7 separate regions of the Homo sapiens genome follow, and all the other regions are reported to be linked to region 1. The links are microRNA targets in miRTarBase. Many come from high-throughput screens and were not tested one by one. Region 1 holds a microRNA gene; each other region holds the end of a gene's coding sequence.

What was found. Region 1 holds the annotated microRNA hsa-miR-124-3p (UAAGGCACGCGGUGAAUGCCAA, at 1,095-1,116, shown strand). A microRNA usually pairs through its seed, bases 2 to 8, with sites in the 3' UTR of a target mRNA and lowers its output. Matches are read on the target gene's strand: a 7mer-m8 pairs with bases 2 to 8, a 7mer-A1 pairs with bases 2 to 7 and ends in A, and an 8mer does both.
Region 2: the mRNA of NCF2 is a reported target of hsa-miR-124-3p. The part of its 3' UTR that is shown has no 7-base or 8-base seed match.
Region 3: the mRNA of CD2BP2 is a reported target of hsa-miR-124-3p. Seed matches in the 3' UTR shown: 7mer-m8 at 2,861-2,867 and 7mer-A1 at 2,724-2,730.
Region 4: the mRNA of ARMCX2 is a reported target of hsa-miR-124-3p. The part of its 3' UTR that is shown has no 7-base or 8-base seed match.
Region 5: the mRNA of EHD2 is a reported target of hsa-miR-124-3p. The part of its 3' UTR that is shown has no 7-base or 8-base seed match.
Region 6: miRTarBase lists XKRX as a target of hsa-miR-124-3p. The part of its 3' UTR that is shown has no 7-base or 8-base seed match.
Region 7: miRTarBase lists SQOR as a target of hsa-miR-124-3p. The part of its 3' UTR that is shown has no 7-base or 8-base seed match.

The regions. Positions count from the first base shown.
Region 1 is chr8:64,378,116-64,382,193 of GRCh38, forward strand. MIR124-2 (microRNA 124-2) reads left to right here and starts at 1,034; the gene lies at 1,034-1,142. MIR124-2HG (MIR124-2 host gene) reads left to right here. Exons shown (of 3, transcript NR_109792.1): 2 at 1-374; 3 at 3,488-4,078.
Region 2 is chr1:183,552,545-183,556,622 of GRCh38, forward strand. NCF2 (neutrophil cytosolic factor 2) reads right to left here. Exons shown (of 15, transcript NM_000433.4): 15 at 3,018-3,686. The coding sequence ends at 3,574. SMG7 (SMG7 nonsense mediated mRNA decay factor) reads left to right here. Exons shown (of 23, transcript NM_001375584.1): 23 at 1-1,647. Among named protein-coding and RNA genes, the nearest start is that of NCF2, 36 kb to the right of the region's middle.
Region 3 is chr16:30,349,255-30,353,332 of GRCh38, forward strand. CD2BP2 (CD2 cytoplasmic tail binding protein 2) reads right to left here. Exons shown (of 7, transcript NM_006110.3): 6 at 3,927-4,033; 7 at 1,519-3,841. The coding sequence ends at 3,731. Among named protein-coding and RNA genes, the nearest start is that of CD2BP2, 4.0 kb to the right of the region's middle.
Region 4 is chrX:101,651,879-101,655,956 of GRCh38, forward strand. It overlaps ARMCX2 (armadillo repeat containing X-linked 2), which reads right to left. Exons shown (of 6, transcript NM_177949.4): 6 at 3,403-4,078. The coding sequence ends at 3,812. Among named protein-coding and RNA genes, the nearest start is that of ARMCX2, 5.9 kb to the right of the region's middle.
Region 5 is chr19:47,741,008-47,745,007 of GRCh38, forward strand. EHD2 (EH domain containing 2) reads left to right here. Exons shown (of 6, transcript NM_014601.4): 6 at 1-2,127. The coding sequence ends at 425. Among named protein-coding and RNA genes, the nearest start is that of NOP53, 2.5 kb to the right of the region's middle. RefSeq lists a silencer at 2,748-2,857.
Region 6 is chrX:100,910,499-100,914,576 of GRCh38, reverse strand. It overlaps XKRX (XK related X-linked), which reads left to right. Exons shown (of 3, transcript NM_212559.3): 3 at 1-1,132. The coding sequence ends at 239. It also overlaps the pseudogene NSA2P3. Among named protein-coding and RNA genes, the nearest start is that of XKRX, 16 kb to the left of the region's middle.
Region 7 is chr15:45,690,680-45,694,757 of GRCh38, forward strand. SQOR (sulfide quinone oxidoreductase) reads left to right here. Exons shown (of 10, transcript NM_021199.4): 10 at 294-602. The coding sequence ends at 351. Among named protein-coding and RNA genes, the nearest start is that of SQOR, 58 kb to the left of the region's middle.

The sequences.
Region 1 (4,078 bases):
GACTCTGGAGCGGGAGCGGGCCTTTCCCTCGGGTCGACCACGCCGTAGGGGACGCCGTGAAAAGAGCCGTCGCGCCCGCTGCCTCCTGCCCGCTGCGCAGAGGGCTCCGCCCGTAGAGGTCAACTTCCCTCACCCTTTTCTCTCTCCTGCTTGCCCTCCCTCCGCCCGGCCCAGGCGCTTCCAGCCCCAGACTGTGGCCACTGGCTGAGGAGTGCGAGTCGGCTGCGCTGCCCTGAGCCTAATCCCTCTTCCGGGCCCAGACCCGAGGTCCGCGCTCCTGGGCAGTGGGGAAGCTTTAGTGAGCAGGCTTTTCTCTCCGCAGCAAACTTGTAGCCAGACCAGATGGGCCGCCCAGCTCTCTCGGGACTAGGCAGGTGCGGATGAGTTAATTTTTCCGCATTACAAAGAAAGATGACCCAGCCCGCCCTTGGACTCTCTTTTCCCAAAATCTCCCAACCAAACCCGCGGTAACGTTATCAAAGGACACAGAGCCCAGGCATATCTGTGTGTTTATCTTACAGGCACACACGCATGGTTTTCTCTTTTATATGCTAGATTTCATCCCTGACAGCAGAAAATGATTGGCAATGGTTATGACGGAGAACATGCAATAGCGTGGTCCTTAAAAACCTGCCATTCCTTACAAGTGCCTTAGAAAGGATTCAGGGCGAACCAACTGGGTTAATTGCATTCAGTAAAATAACACGATTACAAAATTAGATCTGTACCAGAGGGGTAATTAACTTGGATCCACGCCGTCATTTGAAAACTAGATTTATAGGCTTATGTATGTTTTTAGGCGTGTGCTGTAAATGGCATGGAGATATATGCATATGTATACGCAGGCACACGCACCGTCTACACTTCCACGGAACAGACTAATTAACAGCGGCTCTGGCAGATGTGTCAGAGATGAGCAGAGACAGGAGCTGGGCTTATGAGTTATGACTCTAGGGGTAGAGACTCAGAGCGGAGAGAGGGGGATGGGCAGGGAGAGAAGAGTGGTAATCGCAGTGGGTCTTATACTTTCCGGATCAAGATTAGAGGCTCTGCTCTCCGTGTTCACAGCGGACCTTGATTTAATGTCATACAATTAAGGCACGCGGTGAATGCCAAGAGCGGAGCCTACGGCTGCACTTGAAGGACACCAAAGCATCTCAGGGTCAGAAAGGGGAAAAAGCAATTGCAGGGAATTTAGGGGGTAGTAAAAGGAACCCATCTCTTGCCGCATAAATGCCCCCCACCCCCACCCAGGACTGATTCTGGAAGCAACCTAGTGTTCGAAAGGGAAAGGCTCCTACTTTTCCATTACAGCCGCGGAAATCCGCAGGCAAATCTCCGAGGAGAATTTTAGGGAAGCTTCATTGACAGCTGTCTGGAGAGCAGTAGTTCCCGCCTGTGCAAATATTCCAGAGAGTTAAATCATTTAGAAAGCACTAGTTCTTTCAAGAACAGGTAGTGTGATTGTCTGCAGTCCTGGGCCAAGCTGGGAAAACAAAACAGCAGAGAGAGGTGTAACATTAAATAGCGTCCTGACCACACTGCGCAAGAAACAGCAAATGAAACGTCCAAACTTTGGAAAGATCTGAAGAACACTTGCCGCCCGCATTTCCCCTTGACTTCTCCCTTTTTCTTCCCAATCTCGAGGCGTTCATGCCTGGCTTTAAGACGCCAAGATAACTCTCTTGTTTTGGCATTGTCGCAATGTCCAAATCGGTCAAAGGAGTGGGATAAGGTGAAAGGACCAGGTCAGAAACTTTAGAAGGACTCGGTAAATTAATTTGTTTGGAAGCCAGTGAGGTGGACTATGTTGAGGTAGCAGTTCCGCACCACGACTTTGGAGCCAAAGAAAAACCCAGGCCGAAAAAGCGAGCCTTGATGTCTTTGTTCTGCCTTGGCCTGCAGGGGTTGGGAACAAAGGAGAGGAGCTAAGAGGATGCACCAAAGTAGCCGCGCCCTCCCTGCCTGGCGCTGTCCGCGGTGCTGACCGTGGCCCTTTTCTCTCTCCGTAATCAAACTGGAAAAGCAATAGGACCGTCCCGTCCCTACTCAAAAGAAGAGTAGGATATTAGGTAATTTGAAAAATAACATTTAAAAAGAGAAAAAGGTCACATACAGCAAAACAATATTTTACTGAAATCGTTCCCTCAAGCTGGTTGCTACCCTTGCCTGACACTTTTTGGTCTTCACGTAGGAATGCACACATACATACATTGTAAGTGTATGGGGAAACCATTTCCACTTTATTTAGGCTGAAACCTAAATCGCAGGATTGCAAGAAGGAAATTGAGGAGAATGAAGGCTTTATTATTATCCTTTTCTTTCTTAAATCATCTTCCTTAAAACAGAAACATAAGGTCCTCAGCCGCGGATTTTAGTGCTTACTTGGTCACCAAAGGGACGTGCAATGGACTCAAGTGTGGGCCTCGAGGCTTAACTAGGAAGGGGTGGGTCGGGGACCCACCAGGTGAAACAGGGCAGGAGCCCATGCAGCTTGCCACCTTCGGCCAGGCCTTGCAGCCCGGCAGCCTTAGTAGACGGGTACAGAGGGCTGAGCTCTGCAGACCGCTCTGCTGCGCAGGAGCCTGCTCGGCGCATCCCAGCCGGCGGGAGGCACTGGAGGGCCAGGAGGCCTGAAACCCGCACTGCGGAAAAACCGACCTCAGCCACATCCTCATAGCTCACGCGACGGAAAGAGGCAGGGCGGTTTACTAAATCTTATGCAGTGAAAATTCGCCTTAGAAATCGAAGGTTGGATGAGTCAGTATTGATATATTCAAAAATCTAAATTTCTTAGCATATTTCATCGTTCTTAGATGTTGAAAGTATTAAATGTAAACAATACAAATTTAAATTCCCTAAGTAATGAATCAAAATGGCAAGGGAGAGAGAGAGAGAGAGAGACGGAAAATCAACCAATTCGTAGCCACCCTGGCTGGCTATTTCTCAAAAGAAATTTCTATGCATTTGCTTGAGTTTGTCTATAAATTCACAAACATAAAGGGTGTTAAAATTAGTAACAGACAAAATAATTCAGGTTGGACAATAGAGACAGCAACACCGATTTTGATCCAGGTATAACAATGGGCCATGCATTGACAATGACCTAAAAGACATGTGTTCATTAAGTTATTTTTTTTACACGGGATGTAGATGTATCATAAAATTCATGAAATAAAGCGGCCAGGTGCAATATCCTCAGAGAGCTGCCTTCTCACCCCCTGCCTCAGGGCGGATTTTATCTGTCCTCGAATTTTAGAACTCTGCAAGTCGGGTCTTTCACATTCATCGATTACTTTGGTTTATATTTAATTTTATCCAATTTCGGAGTGGGTGGGTAAAGCACACTGGAAAATAGGGGCTGCTCGAATTACAAAATTTAAGGATTGGGAATATTCCTCTTGTGCCAATTAAAAGCAGTCGTTGGAAGCAGAAATGAATTTAAAGCATTACACGTTATCATGGCGGCCTTGCTTTTTCCTTCCAGTATTCATCCAATTGCGCTGATCTCCTGCATCCACATCTTGCGTAATCCACAAAGCAGCTATGGTCCAGGGCTGCAAAATCGTCCTGCCTGATTCCTTTAGAATTCATACTACCTCAGAGGAGCAAACCTAATCCCCTCAGCCTAATCCTACCTGTTTAGGATCATCTAAACTTGTCCTTCAGAAAGCTTGATCAGTTTAAAATTGCTTTCTAAATAGAAATGAAATACGTGATATGAGAGAGGTTAAAATACTGCTTAAAAAGGGAAACACTCAATTTAGTAATTCGGTTGCCTAGATGAAATCGAGTGGCTATTGATCCGTGATGTTTCTAGATTTTTAAGACTATGTACTTCCTATTTCTTTGGAAAATAATCATCCAGTTTGATGCCCATTACAAATTTTCCTGCTATGAAAGAAATTCTATGCGCGGCAGTTTTGCAATAAAACAACCCGGGCTTCGCAATGGGAGAACTTCGGTGCGGCGTGCCGTGAGAGTCCTTTGACAATCTCAGCTTTCATCTAGGTCTGAAATTAAAGCTTCTCGGAATAATTTAGGAACAGCTTGACCCGTTGAGATACTCAAGGACAAC
Region 2 (4,078 bases), not on the chromosome of region 1:
GAAATGTTCCATAAGGGAGAGTTCAAGGCCTGTCAGAAGGCTCTGGTAGGCCTTCCTCTGGCCAGGAGACTCCAGCAGGGAATGCCCTTCACTCTGTAGGTGCTCGAGCCCCAATCGAGGATACAGTGTGGGTGGTGGTGCTGGGCTGGACTAGCAGGTAGACTGCTGTAGGATTTCAAATTACGTTTTTGATTCCTGTACATTTTACAGTCGCACAGCAAGCAGTCTCACAGAAGGCAGGCTAGTCCATTCACAGCCTGACACGTTCTAATAGGTAGAAGCTTTCAGTGTGGTTATTTTTTCTTTGGTTGGTTTTTGTGCCCCCATTCTACTTCCCACCCTCCTGCCCCATCTCCATCCCTTCTTTTACCCAATGCTGTATGCTAGTAATTGTTTTTATTCCTAATGTGTGCAACATCACATCTCCCCAAGAAGCAACAGCATGGGGTCCAGCAGTTGGGGCCCAAAAGACAGTCTGAAGAGGAAGGAAGCAGCAGTATCTGCGTAGCCCACAGAGGGCCCAGGCCCCTGCCCAGCTGCAGTCTCCCAGCCTCCACTTTCAGAGTGAAATTCAAGGCAGCACGGACATGTGCCCATCAGGCACAGAAGAAAACACGACGTCGTCCATTTTGGAAGAGACGAAAGAAAGGAAAATAAACTCTTTGTATGATATTTATTAGGAGGAAAGAGGACTGAAAATGTTCTTGTGTAGAAACAGAAGGACAGCATTTCTGTTAGTCATTTCCTGGAAAAGTAATATTTTAAGGGGAAATTATGGAAACAATCTAATTGTTCAATTGCTGTGCTAGTGGTAGGGTTTATTTTCTGGGAGGTCTCTCCTTTGTGTGTCTGTATGTTTGTGTACACACACGTGCCCATCTGCTGTCCCAGAGGGGAGGGGTTGTGTGTGCGAGTGTATGGAGTTAGTGTGGAACTTAAGAGCTGGAAGACAGCTGTAGAGCAAAGCACATCCAGGAGCCCCAGTTGTCACTGCAGTCTGGGCAACCCCAGCAATGAAAAGGGGTGAGATAACGCTCATTGCTCTTCAGAGAGAGTGGTTGGAGCCCCCCCCGCCCCGTATGCTTACATTATTGCTCTTTTAGTTTGACATGGTGTTTGGGTTTTGTTTTTTTGAAAGGTCTGAAAAGGTGAAGCCCCCTACCCAATGGCAATATGAAACCTTTTGTGCTTCTCTTCAGCCCCTTCCCTGTGTCCACCTTTCTCTCCTCTTCCCAAGCCTTTTTCCTACTACCTTTACCCAGTTTGTGTGTTTGAGCTCTGCATTCAGGCAGCTGCAACATTCCAGTGTTTGAACTGTCACTGATTCTTGCGCCCTAGACAAGCTAACCAGGTTTACCATCTCACTCCCAGTAATACCCAGCTCCTATCTAAAGCCCCATTCTGCATGAGAATTTGGTGTTTGGAATGTTTTCTGACTCTTGGGGCGGGATTCCTCGCCTTATCATCCTCACTGTGGAGTAATGAGGGGGAGGAGAATCTTTATCAGAAACTGGTTTTGTGTAGTAAACTTTCTTTTGTGGTTTTTTGTTTTGTTTTCTGGGTTTTGTTTTTTGTTTTTGTCTGTGCAAGACCTGCAGCTGCTGAAAATCAGCTTTGCCTTTAATTAAACCATGTTCTCTCCAACCAGATCTGTGTATCGATTCTTTCTTTTCTATCCTAAAAGATATAAAAGAAGTATTGAAGAAAATCCAACTTAAAAGGCAAGAATTTCAACTACTCACAGGTCATCCAGGGAAAGGCATAAATGGTCAGAACTTGAATATTTTTCAGGGTTAATTTTGCTTTTAGTAGCATTCCAAACCAATGAATTACGGAAATTATAATTAATTGTAATGGAAAGGCATGAGTAGTAAGAAATCGATTATCAAAATTCTTTTATTTAATAAAAGAATGCCTTATGTTAAGGAATTAAGAGCCCATCATTTTTATTTTTATTCCTATTGTAGCTGTTACTGAGGCAGTTCAGAGAGTTTATCCTTTTGGCCTGTAAAAATTCACTGAATCTGATTAGCAGCAACATTAATTAATTCTTCTTCTTAGCTTTGGGGTTTCTTTTCTTTGAGTTGTGTCCAAAGTTTCCAGTGATTGGTAGCTTGCTGGGTCTTCCAACTGTGTGCTGGAAGCCAGTGGTATAGCTAACCTTAATGCCTGTGTGCTCACCCTGACCGGCTATCCTTTCACCTGCATGTTGATTCAGTCTGCAGTTCACTTCCTTATTCTGCTTTTCACAGGCGCCTGCACACTTGAAAAATTGTTAGCAAAGCTCCACATACGCTACAACAAGAAGTGGGTAGGGAGAGGAACTAAGGCCAGGCCTTAAGGTCTAATAGTTTAGTTAGTTACAGAATCCTTCACCCAAGTTAATCCTGAAAAATTGGACAATTGGGTTAGCCAAATCCATAGCATTCTGTTATGTATATTAGTATAGCATAGTATATGCAGTCATTTACCATATAACAATGTTTTGGTCAACAATGGACTGCATATACAATGATGCTCCCATAAGATTATAATACATTTTTGCTGACCTTCTCTATGTTTGTTTACACTGATGATACTTACTTACCATTGTGGTATAGTTGCCTGCAGAATTCAACATAGTAACATGCTGTACAGGTTTGTAGCCTAGGAGTAGTAGGCTATACCTGGTAACCTAGCTGTGTAGTAGGCTATACCATCTAGTCTTGTGTAAGTGCACTCTAGATGAGTTTGCACAACACGTTTCTCAGATCATGTCTCCATTGTGAAGCAGTGCATAACTGTATTACGAAGTGTCAGCTAACAAGATACTACTTACGAACTAGCTTCATGAACACCGCTGCTTTTCATCACTTAAATGTTGGCGATTGATATATATTCAGTATTGAGTTCTTAACACATGTTCCTCTCTGAGAATGTACAAAGGTATGTAATTCTATTAATTCTCTGTGGAATTGAGTGTTGTAGTCCATGAGAACCTAACTCAGTCTAGGTTCTGTTTAAGCAACAAGACATAATGAAAAAAGAAAACAAACAAGTTTATTTGTATATGCCTTATGAGTAACCTATAAGGTTACTTCAAGCCTTAAGAGCCAATTACAGTAATGGTTCAGAAACAGGAATATTTGTACTTACTCCTTGGGCCTGGACTTGGGTGTCTTGTTTTTGTAAGATGCTAGGTTTTTTTTTATTGTGGTATGACACAGAAAAGTGCACCAAATGTACAGCTTGATGAATGTTTACAGTGTGAACACAGCTGGCTAGCTAGCACTCAGAGCAAGAAACAGGATCAGTACCTGGAAGACTCTCTCGTGCCCTTTCCAGACACTTCCATCCACTTTTCCTCTCCCCTAACTCCTCCATTCACCTGTCCCCATCTCCTCACCCACTGTGCCCCAGGAAATCATCCTGGGTACTCACATCATTGTCTAGTAGGTTAAATTTTAACAGGGAATAAATAGTTAACACTTCCAAACTGTAATGTCTCAGTACAGTATACAGCAGAAGGGTGCTAAATCTTACAAACAAGTAATAGGGCTTCATTTTCTTCAGCTTTGTAGTTTGTGAAACATCCTAGACTTCTCTCCGAGTGCTTTCCAAATCTGTAGTTGCGCAGTCTTCAACAAAAACTTTGGGGAAAATGCCCACCTTCCCTTTGCACTCCCCTTCCAGCCATTCTTCATTCACTGATAAAAGGAAAAGTACACATGGATTTCTAAAACCACTGTAGGAAGATTACCCTGTCTGGCTATTCCACACAGAATTTGTTATCTGTCACCCTTCCCCACCCCTAATTGTGATCAACAGGGAAAAGACAGTATTGCAAAGTGGTTTGAGAGTGAACACAGGGTTTAACCATCTTATTGATCTGTCTTAAACATGATAATGAGCAAAATGAAGAAGGATAAATTATGTTTTTCAAAAAGTTACCAGATAGAGAAGAAGGGTCAAAGAAATTGAACAACGAATCCTTAAATAGAATTTCTGTCCTTTCCCCACCCCCAACCTTGACAGGGTCTCACTGTCACCCAGGCTGGAGTGCAGTGGCACAATCTGGGCTTACTGCAACCTCTGCCTC
Region 3 (4,078 bases), not on the chromosome of region 1:
AAATAAAAAAAAAGTGTGAAGTTGAATTAGTAAGAAAAATTTTAAAAAAGGGTGAAGTTGAATTAGTATTAATGTACCGTACATCCACACAATACACTGTTATTCAACAATAAACAAAAGGACTGGGCACGGTGGTTCACGCCTGTAATCACAGCACTTTGGGAAGCCAAGGGGAGCGGATCACCTGAGGTCAGGGGTTTGAGACCAGCCTGGCCAACATGGTGAGACCTAGTCTCTACTAAAAATACAAAAACTAGCTAGGTGTGGTAGCACAGGCCTGTAATCCCAGCTACTTGGGAGGCTGAAGCAGAATCGCTTGAACCCAGCAAGCAGAGGTTGCAGTGAGCCAAGATCGTGCCACTGCACTCCAGCCTGGGTGACAGAGCAAGACTCCGTCTCAAAAAAAAAAAAACAATAAACATAGATGAAGATATCCACATGGCTGAACTTGAAAGCATAGGGCCAAGTAGAAGCCAGACCCAGAAGACCACATATATGATTCCATTTATCTTCAATGCCCAGAAGAAGCAAATCTAGAGGCAGGAAGTAGATGGGTGGTTGCCAGGGCTGGGGGGTGAGGAAAGGTGGGGAGTAGTGAGAAGGGGCTACTCATGGGTCAGGTTTCTTTCATGGTAGGAAAAAAAGGTTTTAAAATTAGACTGTGGTGATGGTTGCACAACCCTGTGAATATACAAAAAACCACTGAAGGGTACTGAAGCGTGGTGGCAGGTGCCTGTAGCCCCAGCTACTCGGGAGACTGAGGCAGGACAATCCCTTGAACCCAGGAGGCAGAGGTTGCAGTGAGCTGAGATCGTGCCATTTGCACTCCAGCCCGGCAACAAGAGCGAAACTCCATCTCAAAAAAAAAAAAAAAAAAACTTACTCAAACAAAAAGTTTATATCTATCTATCTATCTATATGTATCTCTTACAAACTGTATACATATAAACTGCATATATACACACACAACTAAAAAAGAAAAGCACACTGGGCACAGTAGCCCACACCTGTAACCCCAGCACTTTGGGAGGCTGATCTGGGAGGATCGGTTGAGTGCAGGAGTTTGAGACTAGCCTGGGCAACATAGCAAGACCCTGCCACTACAAAAAAAAGTTTCTTAATTAGCCAGGTGAAGTGGTGCACTCCTGTAGACCCAGCTACTTAGGAGGCTGAGGTGGGAGGATCACTTGAACCCAGGAGTTCAAGGCTGCATTGAGCTATGATCACACCACTGTACTCCAGTGTAGAGAGATGTTGTCACCCCTACTGGGTGACAGTAACACCCTGTCTCTAAAAACAAAACAAACAAAAAGCCAAGGAGTGCTGTTTCAGATGTGCTATAAAGGCCACCCTAGCAAGAGGCAGCCACATTTATAAGTGCTGACAGGGACCTGAAATAGCAATGTGGTCACAGGAAGGGAGAACTTAGTGAGATCGGGTGGTTCATGAGGTGTCCCCTGGATGCATGAGTAGTTGTTTCCTATTGGGGCTGTTAACAAATTACCACAAACTGAGAGGTTGAAAACCACACCAATTTATTATCTTACAGTTCTAGAGGTCAGGAGTCCAAAATGGTTTTCACCAGGCTGAAGTCTTGTCAGTGCGGCTTTGTTTCTCCACGGAGGCTCTGGGGCAGAATCCAATGCCTTTTCCAGCTCCTCCAGGGGCCACCTCATCGCCTGGCCCCAGGCCTTCTTGCCATCTTCACAGCCAGAAGCTTCCTTGCTTCATGCGCAGACCCTCGTGACTCCCCTTCCCTTATAAGGGCCCCCATGATTACTCAGGGCCCACCTCAACCATCCACGGTCATCTCCCCACCACGAAATCCTGAACTGAAGCACAGGCGCCGGGTCCCTTTTGCCACGCAAGGTAACACTTTCCCACGTCCTGGGGTTCCAAACCTGGACATCTCTGGGGGCTGTTATTCCACCCACCGTCATCAGTGAGGCGCCTTCAGGAGGGGCTGTGAGGTCACGTGAGGTCGGCTTCAGAAGGGCTAGGTTTGAGTGCCTGGAGGACACTGGCAGGAGGCGCCCCTGGGCTCCATCCATTTACCACGCACGCACTCAGCACCCCTGAGACCATCCCTGGGGCCTACAGGAGAACCCTGTACCTCAGCAGCCCTGAAACCTGCTTTCCACTTCCGGACCTTTCTGAAATCAAGACGCATCTTTAGATCAATGGCATCTTACTGTGTCACCGGCAGGCCTCTTCTTTCTTAGTGACGTTTAAAGGAAGGTATCTTACCCCTGATGGCTTCTTGGAGTGAATGAAATTCCGGTGTGAGCAGGCACTAGAAGGGGCCTCACAAGAGTGTCAGGTGACCCCACTCCGCCCTGGCCCCCAAGTCTTTCCTAGTTGCTCATCTGGCCCTTTCTGACCTGGGATCCCAAGTGTCCTGCAGCTCCAGTGCCCAGACCCCCATAACTAACAGACCCCACTAAAGCCACACACATGCTCAGCTCTCCAACCACGGTGGGGTCCAGGAGCCACCCCTCCCGCTAGGTGTGCCTAAACCATGGGGATCTGACTCAGGGGCTCTCTCTCGGCCTGGCTGCAAGCTGAAAACACCTGGGGGCTTCCAAAATGCCCAATGCCTGGGCCACAACCTAGACCAGCTCAATCTGAATCTCCAAAGAGATATTACAGCTCCCCAGGAGACTCCAAGGGGCAGCCAGAGTGCAAAACCGGAAGAAACCATCTAACGTGGGGCAAGGGAGGCGTAAGGCAATGCTGGTGGGGCGTGGAGGTGGAGGGTGCCAGGCCCAGGCTATAGAATTACATCTGTCTATTTCCCATGCCCCTGCCACCAGACTCTGAATTCCTGGAAGGGGACCAACCCAGCTACCTCAGTTTCCTCAAGGCACTAGCCCTGTGCCAGGCACATAGTGGGGTCCAGAGAATGTAGGCCGCAGGGCCTCCAAGGCCAGGCAGCAAAGGCTTTGTGCCAAGAAAGGTCTGGGAAAGGAGCCCACTGGGTCTGGGCCAGCCCTTTGATTCCTGTGATCTCCAGTGAGTCACTGCCCCTCTCTGTGCCAGTACAATGCACACTTGGCCCACACTTGGCCACTGAGTTTGCACTTCACTGAAGGGCTGTGGGAACGACGGCAAGGATAGAGGAAAGCCAGATTAGGGAAGACACTGGCTCTCAGAACCTTAGGGATCTCGGTCTTGGGCCACTCATCCCACTTCTGCCCAGCATCTAAGGAGCTTGAGAGGGTGAAGCGAGAGTAAGAGGGTTCCATGCTCACCCCCAACAGGGTCCCAATGTCTTCTCGATGCCCTGGTCCTTCTGGGCCTAAAACATCCACTTCTGGGGCTCTGTCCTCTGGTGGCTACAAGGATAAAGAATCTGAGGTCCTGAAAGCCAAAGACCTAAGAGGAATCGAACAAGAAACCTGGGAGAGGAGCACAGAGCAGCGCAGTTGGGGGTGTTTACACGGCAAGCAGAGTCCAGGCAGGGAGGCCACAGGATACCTGACAGGCACCTCCAAGAAGGATCTTCATGGGAGTACTCAGGGACCAAGACAAGTCCAAAGGGACTGTGGAGAAGGCCCCTGGCTTCTGGCCATCAGCACAGCCAAGGCCCCAGTACACAACTAAAGGCTTTTATTGGGAAAGGGAAATTGACTGAAAAATGGCCTCCAATTTCCTCGCTGCCTGAGACACTTGGTGCCTCCTCCACAAAGTCCAGGAAAGAAGGGCCCACCAAACTGGGCCCCCAGCAGGCTCAGGTGTAGAGGTCAAAGTCAATGCGTTTGGAGTTGTAGAACTGACCACCAGGGGGGTCCAGCTTCCGGCAATAAACACCGTCCGGGAAGTAGCCTTCACTCACCCAGGTCTGCAAGGAGAGGGCAGAGCTGGGGAACAACTGACAGGAGTGGGGGAAGCAGGGACAAGGCAGGAGGAGGGAGAAAGCAGCTCACCTGCATCTGGGCGCTGGTGAAGGGCCCATACAGCTCGGCATCCCCCGTGTTCTCCCACTTATATTCCCACATCACATCCACCAGACCATCTCCCCGCGACTCTGCTTCTAAAATAACAGGCAAAGCCATTTGGCCTCCAGTGTCTCACTTCC
Region 4 (4,078 bases), not on the chromosome of region 1:
AATACCTGATCCCACTCAATTCCTCTTCCCCGTGAAATGTTCTATAGGAGCAATTACCTTGTCACATAGAACTTTTGTCACAGGGAAAGCTCTCAATTAATTGTAGACTGTTTTCAACCCCAGATTGGGAAGGAAGTCTCATTTGCATTTTGCCCACCTCAACCCAAATATCCCATGATTTCTTGAGACTCTATTGCTTACTGCCCCATCTCTCATCTTACTCTTAGTATGAGGCCTTTTCCTTAAGCACAAAAAGATAATTTAAGGAAATATATTGTGATAGATCTTACAAGGGAAAAATTCAATAACCTGGCCTGATAAAGGGTGGAAACAAATGCAGCTCCAGGAACTCCAAGAGTAGGAGTTTGTATCAATTTATCATTGTGCTCTGCCACTAAAATGACAGCCTTGTATCCTCAGTCCTTGCATTTATTGGGCCACATTCTTAAAAAGAGAGAACATGAATGTTTCTTGACCTGACTGTTTACCCAGACTAACAAATTGAAGCAAGGAAAGCAGGACTATTCAGTGCAAACAGTTGTGAGAACTGTACCCCTTCATATAGGCCCTGGACACACAATATAAAAGGTAAATACTATAGTACAGAATACCTAAGGAATGTTTCAACAGTCACATTTCAGGAATAATAGAATACTATATAGCTGATGCTCAATTCCTGGTACCTATTGTTATTATTTTACGAAGTTAAATCTTTCAAAGAGCTACTCTTTTAGGATTTAGCCACACCTGAACTACGCTCGTACTTTCACATGTGATATGATTTAAGGCACAAAAATTCAGACCTTAGGAAATAAAGCATTTCCCTATTGTGTGATTTGTAGCTTATTCGTTAGGCCAGACCACACATCTCTGTATGGGAATAGGTTTCACCTGAAGATTATGGAAGTTTCCACTGTTAATCAGAGCAGATAAAGCTGGTTAGACTACCTGAATAGTGAGGATCAAGCCAGGAGGTTCTGATGCATCCATCTTCCATATACGAACTCAAATACTACCTCTATCTTACCCCAGAAATACTTTTCCAGGACTGACATATTTTCAGGTTATCCTTAGTAATGGTTCAAAAATTCTTGGGTCTAACCTCACTCAGGGTCATGTTGTTACCACAGCAATTGTATTATTTATTAAATAGCCATAGATTCGATGTCATATGGGTTACAATGATTACAGTAAAACTGAGTAAGAACATTAGGCCCTAGGGTCTTCTATCAATTTTCTCCTAGGAGAAAAAGAAAAAAGGCCATCACCTCCATTATTATCACCAGTGATCTCTTCAGAAAAATCTTCAAGAGAAGCTGTCAAGCTTGAATTTGTGGATACAAGTTTTACAAATTTCTAATTTTGCATAAAAGTTCAAATTTTATTGCTGGTGACAAATCCTGTCAGTTGTTTTTCTTGAAGTCTCACTTCATTCATTTTCAAGAAAATCTCTGCTAAATACCGAAGTCTGAAAAACCATAGTTTGTCTGCCAGTCATTCTTCAAGTAAAACTAATGTTCCATGAAAAAAGCAGCTAATTCAGTGCACAACTAAAATGATTATGCAAATATTTACCTTAGAGACAACCATTGTCCTAAGCTATGTGGCAGAAATGCTTTGTGCGTACTTCCTATTTCATCACACGGAATATTAAAAAGACTTGCACTCAATCATTGAGATTTTATCATATATAATTTTTATAAATAAGGACTATATTAAATACATTTTTAAATAAATTTGGATTTAAAAAAATTAGAGCGTGTGGTTCTAAAGAATGCAATCACTACTAGTATAGTATGGGGACACTGCCTTAATCCATGCTAAGGCACCAGCAGTTTTACCCACCAATGCTTTTGCACCATCAGTGCAAATGTCAACTCGGTGAAAACAGCAAATAACATGTTACTATTGTTTTGAAAATAGTTTTGACCTTACTGTTTCAGGGACCTGCAGTAGTCCATGGACTACACATTGAGAACCATTATCATACAATATGATTCCAATTTTATGAAAAAAATACGCAGGGATGTATATAATAAACATATGAAGGAATTTTCACCCAGTTTTAATTGTGTGGACTTTTTGACTGATGCGACAGGCCCTTACACGTAGTTAATGTCTTTTCATGCCAATATAGAAGTATATCAGTTTTTAAAAAATGTATTTTTAATAGACGAATAAGAATTGTATATATTTAGGGGTAAACATGATATTTTGATATATGTATACATTGTGGAATGGCTAAAACAAGCTAATTAACATATGCATTTGCCCCCATATAGTTATCTTTTGTGGTTAGAACACTTAACATCTACTCTTTCTGAAAATTTTAAGTATACAATATACTGTTGTTAACCATAAAGGGTGTCAGGAAAGCAGGCTGGGTTTGGAAAAATCTCTCGGACCCTCCCACTTTCTAATTGCTTCAGTGGGCCAGGGAGGAAAGCATACCTGTTCATAAGTGAACTTGGGAGTGGGGATGGGGACTCCCATCAAGGCCTCACCACTGCCCCTCTTCTAAAAGATGGCAGACCTAAACCTCTAACCCTAGGAAGCCAACCACTGCTCTGTGCCAAGAGTCATTCTTTCTGCCACACTGCTTTTTTCTCATCCCAAATGGTGACTCACTTTGTCATTGTGCCGTCTCCACAGTTGCCCCCCAAATAGGGCTCTTCCCTGTCAGGACCTGCATGAGGTTATACAATCCTCCAGCTTTGTTGATCCACAGACAAGCGTCAGGCAGCAGATCTTCGTCCTTCTTGTTTTGTTTTGTCTCTTATTATCATCATACACTAACAGTTCCCTTAGTCACCACCCCACTTCACCCCTCATCATCTCTTGCTTGGCTTATTATAACTTTCTAACAAATGTCCAGTCTCCAACATAGCTCCAATCCATCTTTAATATTGCCACCAGATTATTTTTCCTTTAGTCAAAAATGTTCAGCAATTTGCATAATATGACAAGATATTATTTCAATATTTTGGCTTGGGGTTCAGGATCTTCCTCAAACTTTCCTCACTCTGAATTTTCACATTTATCTCTCATCATTCCTCTTCCCATGGCTTCCATTCCAAGCAAATTGGCTACCTTCCTATCACAGGCACAGATTTCTCACTTGCATGCCTTTCTCCAAAGCATTTCCCCCTCCTGGAATGCCCTTCTATGTTGTCCTTCAGGGTTCAGCTTAAATGCGCCCTTCCTCCTTGAAGCTTTCTCAGCAACCTCTGCTTCATTTAAACAGATAGTGTATATTTGACAAAGAGCATATGCCCAGGTACTGTTAGTAATCCTTTTGTATTTATTTATTATTATTATTTTTCATAGATCTTTGTATATATACTTTTGTATTTATGTACCTTATCTCTCCATCTGGGTTTTAAATTCAAGCATTAGAACGACTTTTTGTCAGTTGAAACATACAACTTTATTGATGATACACAAATGAAGTCTTTGGTGGATAAATTCAAGTCAAAACAAATAATAGAACAGTAGGCCATTCATAATGGACAGGTTTACTGTCAATTCAGAAGAACCAGTAAAAATATTTCTATCCAAGCAGCACGATTAAAGTCACAAATATGTTTTCAGTACAAGAGGTCTATTTATTTGGTATTCATAAAATGGTTCAGCTTAAAGCTGGTGACTGTCACAGATAACATCACTCTGGATGATACATTATTCAACACTGGCAGCTGAAAGGATCCCTTTACTATATGAGCAAGTGGAAAAGCAGTAACTTTCAATTTTCAACGCTTCCACACTGCAAAATCATGAAATTTCTTCAAGTCTTTTGACGGTACATAACCAATCAGAATTTGTTCACTAGTTTTATAACTTTCACTTTCACTAAGAGGTCATGGTGATTTGCTAAGGCTCTAATTTTCTTAACACACACTCCAGATGTAGTGCATAAGTAAAAAAGGGAACCTTTATTGAATTCTCTATAGTTAAACACTTCTGCTCTGAGATTGTCATAGATAATCTCAAATAGAGTAAGGGCATTAATAAGGATTTCTGATTCCACGTAAGAATTATAGAGGGAACTAAATGATGCTGGCACTTGGGTACTGAGAAG
Region 5 (4,000 bases), not on the chromosome of region 1:
AGAGCACCGAGGTGGGCGTGCAGGGGGGCGCTTTTGAGGGCACCCACATGGGCCCGTTTGTGGAGCGGGGACCTGACGAGGCCATGGAGGACGGCGAGGAGGGCTCGGACGACGAGGCCGAGTGGGTGGTGACCAAGGACAAGTCCAAATACGACGAGATCTTCTACAACCTGGCGCCTGCCGACGGCAAGCTGAGCGGCTCCAAGGCCAAGACCTGGATGGTGGGGACCAAGCTCCCCAACTCAGTGCTGGGGCGCATCTGGAAGCTCAGCGATGTGGACCGCGACGGCATGCTGGATGATGAGGAGTTCGCGCTGGCCAGCCACCTCATCGAGGCCAAGCTGGAAGGCCACGGGCTGCCCGCCAACCTGCCCCGTCGCCTGGTGCCACCCTCCAAGCGACGCCACAAGGGCTCCGCCGAGTGAGCCGGCCCCCCTCCCATGGCCCTGCTGTGGCTCCCCAGCTCCAGTCGGCTGCACGCACACCCCTGCTCCGGCTCACACACGCCCTGCCTGCCCTCCCTGCCCAGCTGTAAGGACCGGGGGTCTCCCTCCTCACTACCGCCAGACACCCCGGTGGAAGCATTTAGAGGGGACCACGGGAGGGACAAGGCTTCTCTGTCCGCCCTTCACACCTCCAGCCTCACGTTCACTTAGGCACATCACACACACACTGGCACACGCAGGCATCCATCCATCCGTCATTCATTCAAATATTTATTGAGCACCTACTATGTGCCCAGCCCTGTTCTAGGCACTGGGCATTACCATAGAGAACAAAATAGACAAATACATCTGCCCTCATGGAAGGTGACGTTCCCAGGAGAGGGCACCTACACAGTCACGCAAACACACACTAATTCCTGGCAGGGCCCCCAGCCCCTCCCCTGGCTGAGCAGCCCTGTGGCTGAAATGACTAGCAGATAAACAGACCCCCTTCTGCTCCGCTTCCTCCTGCCCAGCCAGGCAACACCCTCAACCGGCTCCATCACATCCTCAGGTCTCGGGACCATGGGGGGCTCAGAGGGGAGACACACCTACTGCTTCCTCAGATGGGCCCCTCCGCAGCCCCTTCCCTTGCTCGGGGAAAGCCCCCAATTCTGCCCACACCCATTTATTTCCTTCCTTCCTTCCTTCTTTTCTTTCCTTCCTTCCTTCTTTTTTGTTTTTGCCCCCAATTCTGCCCATACCCATTTCTTTCTTTCCTTCCTTCCTTCTTTTTTGTTTTTGCCCCCAGTTCTGTCCACACCCCTTCCCTTTCCTGTCCTGTCCTTTCTTTCTTTTTTGATAGAATCTTGCTCTGTCGCCCAGGCTGGAGTGCAGTGGTGAGATCTCAGCTCACTGCAACCTCCACCTCCTGGGTTGAAGTGATTCTCGTGCCTCAGCCTCCTGAGTAGCTGGGACTGCAGGCACGCGCCACCACGCCCAGCTAATTTTTGTATTTGAGTAGAGACGGGGTTTCACCATGTTGGCCAGGCTGGTCTCGAACTCCGCATCTCAGGTGATCTGCTCGCCTTGGCCTCCCAAAGTGATGGGATTACAGGCATGAGCCACCGTGCCCGGCTTCACACCCATTTCTTTAAAAAGGATCCCGTAGCAGGCAGAAAAGCCCCTTCCATCCTGCTCCTCTGATACTGTGCCCCCTTGGAGATATTTCCGTCCTCCACCCACGTGTCTGTGGCTGGAACTGCCCAGCCTGCTCCTGGCCCCCTGGAAGCCTCCCCACAGCTGGTAATCTGGACTTAAGGATTGCTGGGCCACCGCCTCTCTGCCTACCACCATTCCATATTTAAGTGGAGCCCCTACGTAGAAAGGCCCCGGGGCTTTATTTTAGTCTCCTTTTCAGGGATGTCGTGGGCGGGGGAGGGGGTTCTTGGTGCTACAGCCCTCTCCCCACCCCTAAAGGGACGCCGACGCTGTTTGCTGCCTTCACCACATATTAGTGCTTGACCCTGGCAGGGGACCCCATGGAAAAGATGGGGAAGAGCAAAATACATGGAGACGACGCACCCTCCAGGATGCTCGCTGGGATTCCCACGCCCACCACTGTCCCCCACCCCATGGCTGGGAGGGGCCTCTGAACGGAACAGTGTCCCCACAGAGCGAATAAAGCCAAGGCTTCTTCCCATGTGGCAGTGAGGCTGGCTTGGGACAGGGATCGCCCGCCCTCCCCCAGGGAAAGAGAGACCTGGGCAGGATTTGGGGTGGGGGGAGGCCCCCTTCCGTGCTCTCAGGGGCGGGGTGGAGTCCGTGACTCAATGCAGCGAGGCCTGGTGACTCAGGCCTGGGCTGGGGGCCAGAACGGCATATTTTCCGAGGAAAAGTGACTCTGGGGCCCTCCCCCCGGGACATCCCTTCCTCCCACCTCCCGCGGCGGGGGCCTGGGAACCAAGCCCTGGGGCGCGCGCGGGGTGTGTGTGTGTGTGTGTGTGTGTGTGTGTGTGTGTGTGTATTCGGGCACGAAGTGCTCTCCCAGCTCCCGCCCTGCCCGGCAACGTGCCCTTGCACAACCTGGGTACATAACTCCCGACGCGTAACACCAGGAACACGCTGGTTTCTGGTTGGGGAAGTGGTGACCTTGCCCACACGGGCTGCCAGGAGTGTGCGCGCGCTCACGCACCGGGGACTCTTGGCCAGAGCTGGGCAGCGCACCGTGCGCGCCGAGTCCCGCGCACTCACATCCAGGCCACACCCACGGCGTCCCGGGACACGCTGGCCGCGCACTCATCCCGCCCACGCGGGCCCAGTTTCGCGGCTCGCGGCGCCCCCTGGCGGACGCTCAGAAAACAGATAGGCTGTGGTCGCCAAAATCCCTGCCCAGGTGATTCGGCGCTCAGGTCTCGGGGCTGCGATCCAGGGCCTGTCACCTTTAGGGCCTGTCACCTTTCCAACGCTCTGCGCAAGGATCCAGTTGAATTTCGCTGTGTGACCATGCGTGTGTCGCCTGCCCTCTCTGTGCCTTTTTCCTTTATGAGTCCAGAGTGGCTTTTATGAGGCCTGGATTCCTTTGATTTGATTGTTTTGTTTTTGAGACAGGGTCTTGCTCTGTCACCCAGGCTGGAGTGCAATGGTGCAATCACGGCTCACTGCACCCTCCAACTCCTGGGCTCAAGCGATCCTCCCACCTCAGCCTCCCGAGTACCTGGGACTACAGGCGCACACCATCACGCCTGGCTAATTTTTAAATTTTTGGCAGACACAGGATCTCACTATGTTGCCCAGGCTGGTCTTGAATTCCTGGGCTCAAGCGATCCTCCTGCATCGGCCTCCCAAAGTGCTGGGATTAGAGGCGTGAATCACCACGCCCTGCCATGGATCCCTTTGAATGGCTGCCAGGGCCCAAGAGCCTCTGAGCTTCCTTCCTTATTTGTAAATGACAAAGATGAGTTGATTCTAAGATGAAGCCTCAGAGGGCAAGGCAGTAACAATAGCTAACACTCAGATGCCAGACGCAGCCTTAAGCGCTTTACATATGTTTAATCTTCTGCATGACTTATGACGCAGATGTACTGTTATCATCTTTATTTTACAGATGAGGAAACTGAGGCACAGTGAAGTAGCCCGCTCAAGATGAATGATTCTGAGTCTGCACTTCTAGGGTCCTAAAAGTGTATGTTTCTAACATTCCTCTAATGTTCTGTGCTTCCAACTTTGATATTCCGAAAGTTACTTGATTTCTAAGATCCTAGGATTGGAACATTTGAGAGGACAAAACTTCTGAGATTGGAATGTGTGTTGTGCGGAATCTGCCACTGACGGTTCTGACTTTCTAAGAAAACGAGATTAAAAAATAATCAGGCCGAGCATGGTGGCTCACATCTGTAATCCTAGCATTTTCGGAGGCTGAGGAGGGAGAATCACTTGAGCCCAGGGGTTCAAGACCAGCCTGGACAACATAGTGAGACCTTTGTCTCTTAAAAAAAAACACACACACATCAGTTTGGACCGGGAGTGGTGGTGTGAGCCTGTAATCCCAGCGCTTTGGGAGGCCTAGGAAGGAG
Region 6 (4,078 bases), not on the chromosome of region 1:
GAGTGAAAGTGTTACTGAATTACTGTCATTCCTTGATTGCCTTGCAGCTCATTATTGCTTATCTGATTTCCATTGGCTTCATGCTCCTTTTCTTCCAGTACTTGCATCCATTGCGCTCACTCTTCACCCATAATGTAGTAGACTACCTCCATTGTGTCTGCTGTCACCAGCACCCTCGGACCAGGGTTGAGAACTCAGAGCCACCCTTTGAGACTGAAGCAAGGCAAAGTGTTGTCTGATTCTATTTTCTGGGTATTTTAGGAAGAGTTGGGAGTTGCCAAGAGTAACCATGAAATTGAACGAAAGGATGAGGTTCATGGGTGAGATACCCATCAGTACATTTTCTTGACTTTTCTGTTAAGCCTATCAGAAGAAAGAGCAACTCCCAAATAGGTTTTATTTTCTTAAGAGTTACCACTATGTTTGGAAACAGGGGGTATCGACTATATAGTTGAAAGGGTCAGAAATACCATTCACACCCTTCTTACCCAAGTCAATTGGAATAACTTGTCTTCAAACACTTTAGGCTCTCTAAAGTGACCTTCTAGCTCTGCTCATTTGCTTGATGCATTTCTGAGCTTTCCTGGGCTGAGCTGAAGGCCCAGAATCCCGCTAGAATATATCCTGACTGATCAGAGGATATGACAGCTTACCAGCTAAGAGTACCTCCCAGGAAACAGTCTGACTAATGTGGAACCTGCAACTGTCAGTGTGGCTGGGGTCTTTTTAATTCCAGTGAGAAGCTCTGGCTGAGAAGAAAATCACCACTATTAAAAAAGCTGCTCCCCAAGCAGATTAGCTCTCTGTTAGGATTTTACTAGTGGCCATTCAGCAAGGACCTCTCTTTACAGTGGCACTTCATAGGCACACTCTAAGGAGAAAGTGCAGAGTAGAATTCCTTCAGGGCATAAGCCAAAATGACTCTTTTTCTCAGGGACCTGCATGGGCCTCCAGCTTGTCTATTGGAATTGTTAAGTGAAGCCTCTCACTTAGTGCCTCATTAGCAGAGATTTCCTCCAACCCAGCTTTTCTGTGCTCTTGGTATTTTACTACTTGATGTGGACCTCAGAGAAGCTGAACTGTAATTGAAAATGTTTCCGATGTGTGGAAGAAATGAAGACTGCTTTGTGTCTGCTGTTGTCCTGAGTATTTCATTAATGTGTGTGTGTGTGTGTGTGTGTGTGTGTGTGTGTATGTGTATGTGTGTAGGGAAGAAAGTAATAATGGCTGAGACATCACCTTCATGTTGTTTGCGATTGGGATGGGTGACTAACACTCCAAGGTAGAGTGAAGGCAGAGGAGGGAAACAAGATCACATTAAATCATCATCAGTACTGGTTTCTGCCTACAGGAGTTTACTTTTTTTTTTTTTCTTTTTTGAGATGGAGTCTCGCTCTGTTTTCTAGGCTGAAGTGCAGTGGTGTGATCTTGGCTCACTGCAGCCTCTGCCTCCTGGGTTCAAGCAGTTCTCCTGCCTCAGCCTCCCGAGTAGCTGGGATTACAGGCGCCCGCCACCATGCATGGCTAATTTTTGTATTTTTAGTAGAGATGGGGTTTCACCATGTTGGCCAGGCTGGTCTCGAACTCCTGACCTCAAGTGATCCACCCGCCTCGGTCTCCCAAAGCACTGGGATTACAGGCATGAGCCACCTCACGCGGCCAGGATTTTACTTTATAACAAGGAACATATGTTTATCAACCCTCTGTTCGTTCCTATACCCCCAGTGGACGAATGCATGTCTCCTTTTCTCCTATATCTCAATGTTTACATCTCATATCAGTTGGGTATTTTGATAGGAATGTCAGCCAGCTACCTCTGAGGTAACCAAGGGATTGAAGTTACTATGGCCACTGCCTATTGGGACCAAATATCCCAGCATTTACCTAACTAATGCTTGCCCCTCACAGACCAGGAAAATTAAAAGAACTCCTAGTCGTGGCCACCACAACACTTCAAGAAATTGTGAACAATCTGACCTAGGGCTTCCTGTCCTCATCCAATTTTACTCTTGGTAGCATGCTAAGAATTTATCTTTAGTCATTTCCTCTCCTCTTATCCAATGTCAGGACATTATGTTGAGGGAGTTCTCTCTTCTAAGTAGCAGGGCTGTTAACCAAAGTATCTTATTTCTTGGCATGGCTAGCATGGTTTTCCCTTCATCAGCCACTGTTTGGGACTAAAAGGATTATATAACTTAATTTGGGAGAGACTGTATGGACTTGCTTTGGAACAGTGGAGAGCTCCTTTCTTCAACCCCAACTCCCCCATTCCATTTTTCATGATGAAGAGACTTAGTTATTGTCATATAAAGCTCACCTGCTGTCTTCTAACTATGTTATTCAAGGTGAGGCTTGAAAGAACTAATCTATCAGACCTCCAGAAGAACACATTACTTCTTTGGAATTCAAGCAAGAATTTCTCCCCAATAGTCACTGTACCCTCAAGTAAAATCAAGAGCAGCATGGAACAATAATTTGGTCCATAAAAGCCATGTGAATCAGCTACTTAAGGAGTGGGTGCTATGGAAACATATAGACACATACTGATCTAAGGAAGTCAATTGGAGATAAAATGACGCTACACAGGGCAAAAAGTGTGCCTCAGTACTGGACCAGGCAAAATTTTCCTTCTGTATATTCTCCCCAGCTTCCTCAGTGACTTAACATCCTGGGAATGCAGAGAGTTTAGGGGTGTGGAGTAGTTTCTGACCTGAAAAACCTGCTGCCCTCACCCAAGGAGAAAAGACTCTAGTGATACATTATGTAAATGAACCCTTAGAACTTCCTACAGATGGTGGCCTTTTGGTTCTGTAAAAATCCTCCAGATACACAGGAGAAGATGGAATTGTGAAATATGGTAGTGGGGCAGGGAACTTGCTCCCTTCCATTTGCAAACACTTTTAAAATTGACTACTCTCTTCTTACTTTCTGAAATCTTTTTTTAACCATTTTAATGTTTGCAATTTAATAAATCTCTTGATGATTGCAGACATATAAGGCTGTTTGGTGGTATTCAGAAACATCACAGTAATGGCAGTTTTTTCAATTGGTTTGTAGTCCTCAATAATTATATATTAAATTGCTGTCAAACCAGTAAGACTGCATTTATGCATCCATCATTTTCAGGATTGTTGGTAACCTGGGCATATTTTCCCCAAATAACTTTGCCTCTTTGCGTCACAAGTCCCAGTTTGCTCACATTTACCTCAATGACAGTACCTTTGGTAATAACACCCAAAGTTGTATACAGTGGGAATGAGGGATTCTTCTTTACACCAAGTATTGGTAAGCAAAAGGTGGCTTTCAGTTCAGGATGTGTTACATGGGCTTTCTTGAAATGCAAGCCCATTGGCCTGATGAGTCTTTCATATTTAGGTGGTTTTCTTATAAAGCCATCTCCAACAAAGCAGACTTTAGTAACCATCCTCTTCCATGCCTTCTTCTTTCTCTTTCCTGTTCGAATAACTTTTAATACTTTTGTTTCTCCTTGGGCACATACTTCAGGCAGAGGGACTTCCCATTTTCCCACCTTCTCTTTTCGTTTCTGTTTAATCATATTGGAAAGTACTGTAGCTCGAGATTGTGCCTCTCTGTCCAGCAGATAGGCAGGTACTGATCCCCGTGGAGTCTTTTCATTATTCTTGTGTTTGGTGTTTCTCTTTTCATGCATCTTGATAGTCTTTTTCATTTGTATTTTCTCAGCATGGCACGGTTTATGGTAAAGCTTAGCCTTCAGACCATCATTTTCTTTGCCTTCTTTGAACGTTCGTAGCCTCTCGACTTTCCTTCTTTCTCTTTTTCTCATGGTAATCCAAACGATATCCATAGCGTTTACAGTGTAATTCAATATATTCGTTCTGTGGCATGGTGAAGGCCGCAGAGTTGCCAGTAGCAGCCTCTGGGGTGCGAAAATGCTCTCAATTTTCAGGTCTCAGAGACCCACGAGCCGAGGCCGCACAGTCCTCTCTGAAATCTTTTTTTTTTTTTTTTTAAGACGGAATTTTGCTCTTGTTGCCCAGGCTGGAGTGCAGTGGCATGATCTTGGCTCACCGCAACCTCCACCTCCCGGGTTCAAGTG
Region 7 (4,078 bases), not on the chromosome of region 1:
GAGGTAATGAAAGCAGAAAGAGTAGCAGTTTGCATGTAGTAGAGGCTTTAGACACATTTGCCAAATTGAGTTAGCACATCCAGGCTCACACAGCAAGTCTTTGTCAAAGCTTAGGAATGGAAGTAGGTTGTCCCCTCCTAGTCATGGGATCTCTCCAACTCACTAGACAATCTTGCTTTACGTGCTGATGAACATGCTCTGTGAGCAGCCTGGCTTCCCTTTCAGCATCCTCCTGACTGAAGTCGCCCCATCTCTCTTGCTGCAGGTACATTTTTTTGTGTTATTTCTTACAGGGGTTACTGGGGAGGACCAGCGTTTCTGCGCAAGTTGTTTCATCTAGGTATGAGTTAAGGATGGCTCAGCACTTGCTCATCTTGGATGGCTTCTGGGCCAAAACTGCAGTCACTGAATGACCAAGAGCAGCACGAAGGACTTGGAACCTATCCTTGTAAAGAGTTCCTTGATGGGTAATGGTGACCAAATGCCTCCCTTTTCAGTACCTTTGAACAGCAACCATGTGGGCTACTCATGATGGGCTTGATTCTTTGGGAATAATAAAATGAAATAATACTTTTATTTTCTGAATAAAAGTTTGTCACTGATTGTGTTCTATGAGAAAATTTTATCTTGGCTGATAGGGATGAAAAGTTCCAGCACTTGGGAGAAAAATATGGTGGTGGTGGGCTAGCTTATATGTTATCTACTGTGAGTATTCAGCTGACAGCTGGCATAATTTCACAGAGCCTATTTGGATTCACTGAAAAGGGTCATTCCAGGGACAATATTGTTTCAAACATAGTGGGCAGTAGCCCTGAACATGTGCTGCTTAGAACTCCTGCCGCGGGAGCACTGTGGAGTAAGAGCCCAGCTGCCACCCCTCTTGTTCCACCACCCTGTTTATGCTAAGGCCATACTTTCTTCCAGCCAGAGACTGAACATGGTGGGGTGCCAGTGCTGGCCCATTCCTTGGAATGTGGGACTTCTCTACTGGACAACTTTAGCTCCAGGACCCCCCATCAACCTGGCTGAAACTTCCTTAGAACTGTGCTGCGTCTGAGGTTCTATCCAGTCCTCCTTCCTTCCCCCTCTGTTTTCATACGTGTCCATCTTTCACGGTGGTGTGAAGGCCCGCCTTGCCTTCTCCTGTTCCGTCTCCTTTATGCTTCCTAGCCATTTCCCCCACTAAATCTCCTGCAAACCTAGTTCTCTCCAGGCACCTGTTTCTCAGGGAACCTACACACAGTGAGACTGGGGTTAGAGGAATCCTGATGTGTATACCAAGCATTTGCTAGATTCAGTCCCAATTTTGCTAACAAGGTTTTGAATGAGTTTGTACTAGAGATATTGCAGGAAATAGTTCCAGTTTATTTGAAGTTCAGCAGTGGCTTAAAAATAATTTGTTTTCCATTAGTTTATTGTAGAAGTTCACAGGTTCAGTTCAATCTGGCATTTTAAAGCTGTGAACATTTCATATTTATAAACTCCCCCAAAGGGAAAGGCATAGCAGTTTATACAATGCCTTAGATTTTTTTTTTTTTTTTAGACGGAGTCTCGCTCTGTCGCCCAGGCTGGAGTGCAGTGGCGCGATCTCAGCTCACTGCAAGCTCCGCCTCCCGGGTTCACACCATTCTCCTGCCTCAGCCTCCCGAGTAGCTGGGACTACAGGCGCCCACCACCATACCCAGCTAATTTTTTGTATTTTTAGTAGAGACAGGGTTTCACTGTGTTAGCCAGGATGGTCTCAATCTCCTGACCTCATGATCCACCCACCTCAGCCTCCCAAAGTGCTGGGATTACAGGCGTGAGCCACCATGCCCCACCACAATGCCTTAGATTTTTATAAGGTTAGAGTTCAAACCCTTTTATGTGTTACTAGATTGCCAAGTCTGTTTTCCTAGCGTTCTCTCGATGATGTTAGAAACTTTGGGCGTTCACTCACTCATTCAACAAATATTTATTGAGCATATACTACCTGCTAAGTACTATTCTTGGCCCAGGGTATATACTGTGTTGAACCAGACAAATAAGGGCCCTGTCCACATTTTTGTGGTGCCTGTGATAGTTTCCTCTTCTTTTCCTGGGATGCCAAGGGAGCTTGTTGAGTGAGGTCCTGGCTTGATTAGAGAAGTAGACTGTCTTCAGTGGCATACAATCTGGGGGAGGGCAGGGCACTAACTGCTCTAGCCGCAGGCCGCTAACCTGGCGACAGGGGTAGAAGATGTTCTCTAGGGTGTCCACACATCCTGGTTTGCCTGGGATAGTCCTGTTTAATACCTATTGTCCTGGCTTAACTAAATAGTGTCCCCTTTAGCTCTCCAAGATGTCGCAGTTTAGACAATAGATTTACAAGCACTCTGGGGATCACCCTCCACCCCCCAGTCCCAGAATGGGAGAGTAGTGCTACGAATGGTGCTAATACAGGACTTGTCACCTCATTGGCTTTTCCATGGTGCTCATGAGACAAGCAGGAGTAGGATTAGTCTGCCTTGTTCTCTGAGTCCTGGCAAAGAAACTCCATCCCTTTATGGAGTTCCTGCCCGAGACTGCTGCCGCCTGGCTCCTGGTGGGCTGCTCACTCTCTCAGGCATGGAGGTCAGGGAGAGCCGGGGGCTGTTCACCTCTAATGGTTCTTCCCTGCAGGGTCTAGGAAGGCTTGGGGATAATCCAGTTGGGACTCTCTCCCTGGATGTAGACAAAAGTGCTGGCAAGGTAAGTTTCTGCATTTTCAGAGAATGGGGCTGTGATTCAGAGAATGGCTGAGGCTCCAGGTGGAGTAACTTTGAAATCCCTTGTGGAGTTACCTCGAGCCTCCTGGGTCTGTTTACGATGATGCATTCTGAAGGAAACCTTCAAGCATCAGGGAATTGATTCCAGGTTCACATTATGCTGGGTAGGTTGTATTGCCAAAGCTGGAGACAGCAGTGACCATGACTGGACAGTTTTCTTTCCCCTGAGCTGGGAAAGACAAAATGTGCTGAATTCCAGAAAAGCTTAGCCTTTGAAACCTTATCCACAAATGTGGGGTGCCAAGGGAGAGGGCTTCCCTTAGCACTGCTGCCATAATTAGGAGTGGGCAGTAGGAAGAGGAGGTAAGACCAGGGTAGGGATAAGGATAGTGATTTTTCCAAGGGTGTTACCTTGGGGTGGGGAGGATGTTGTAGGTCCCATCCTACAGAGGGCTCCAAACTCAGGCCTTCAGGGTCCATAAGTGACGTGGTGCTGAGACTGCCGACTTGGGGAATCTCTTTAAACCCTCCACCCCTTTTCTCCAGAGCTTCTTCCTTCTCAATTCCTGCTTTGGTGTTAGCCCTGGATGAGCTGTGGGTGTAATAACAGAGCTGAGGTTGTAGTTTAGGGGCCACTGGGGTACAGGGAAGTAGGCTAGGCTTAAGTTGACTTGGGGATCACAGAGTTTGAGATTTAATATGATTTTTTTTGGGTATTTTTTTTTTTTTTTTTGAGAGGGAATCTTGCTCTGTCACCCAAGCTGGAGTGCAGTGGCCCGATTTCGGCTCACTGCAACCTCTGCCTCCCAGGTTCAAGTGATTCTACTACATCAGCCTCCTAAGTATCTGAGACTACAGGTGCATGCCACCATACTGGGCTAATTTTTGTATTTGTGGTAAAGATGGGGTTTCTCCATGTTGGCCAGGCTGGTCTTGAACTCTTGACCTCAGGTGATTGGCCTGCCTTGGCCTCCCAAAGTGCTGGGACTACAGGCGTGAGCCACCGTGCCTAGCTGATATTAACATTTTAAATGCTTTTTTTCCTTGTCTAAATTTTGTAAAGAATTTAGAGAACAGGTGTAAACAAGAGGACTAAAAATCACTTCCACATTTGCCACCCAGTTATAATAACTAGTAACATGTTGATGTCTCTCAATTGACCTAATATGATTACATATCAAGTTTCTGAAAACTGAAACAGGATGGCATTGTAAGTAGTGTTCTGTGGCCTAGCGTCTTATGCTTAATAGATAGACACTGAAGACCCAGTGGTTGGTTGTGGAGAGGAGGTAATCGGGGCAATCTCTCAAGGAGCACAGGGCGTTTGTGCCTGCTGAGAAAACTGCTCATTA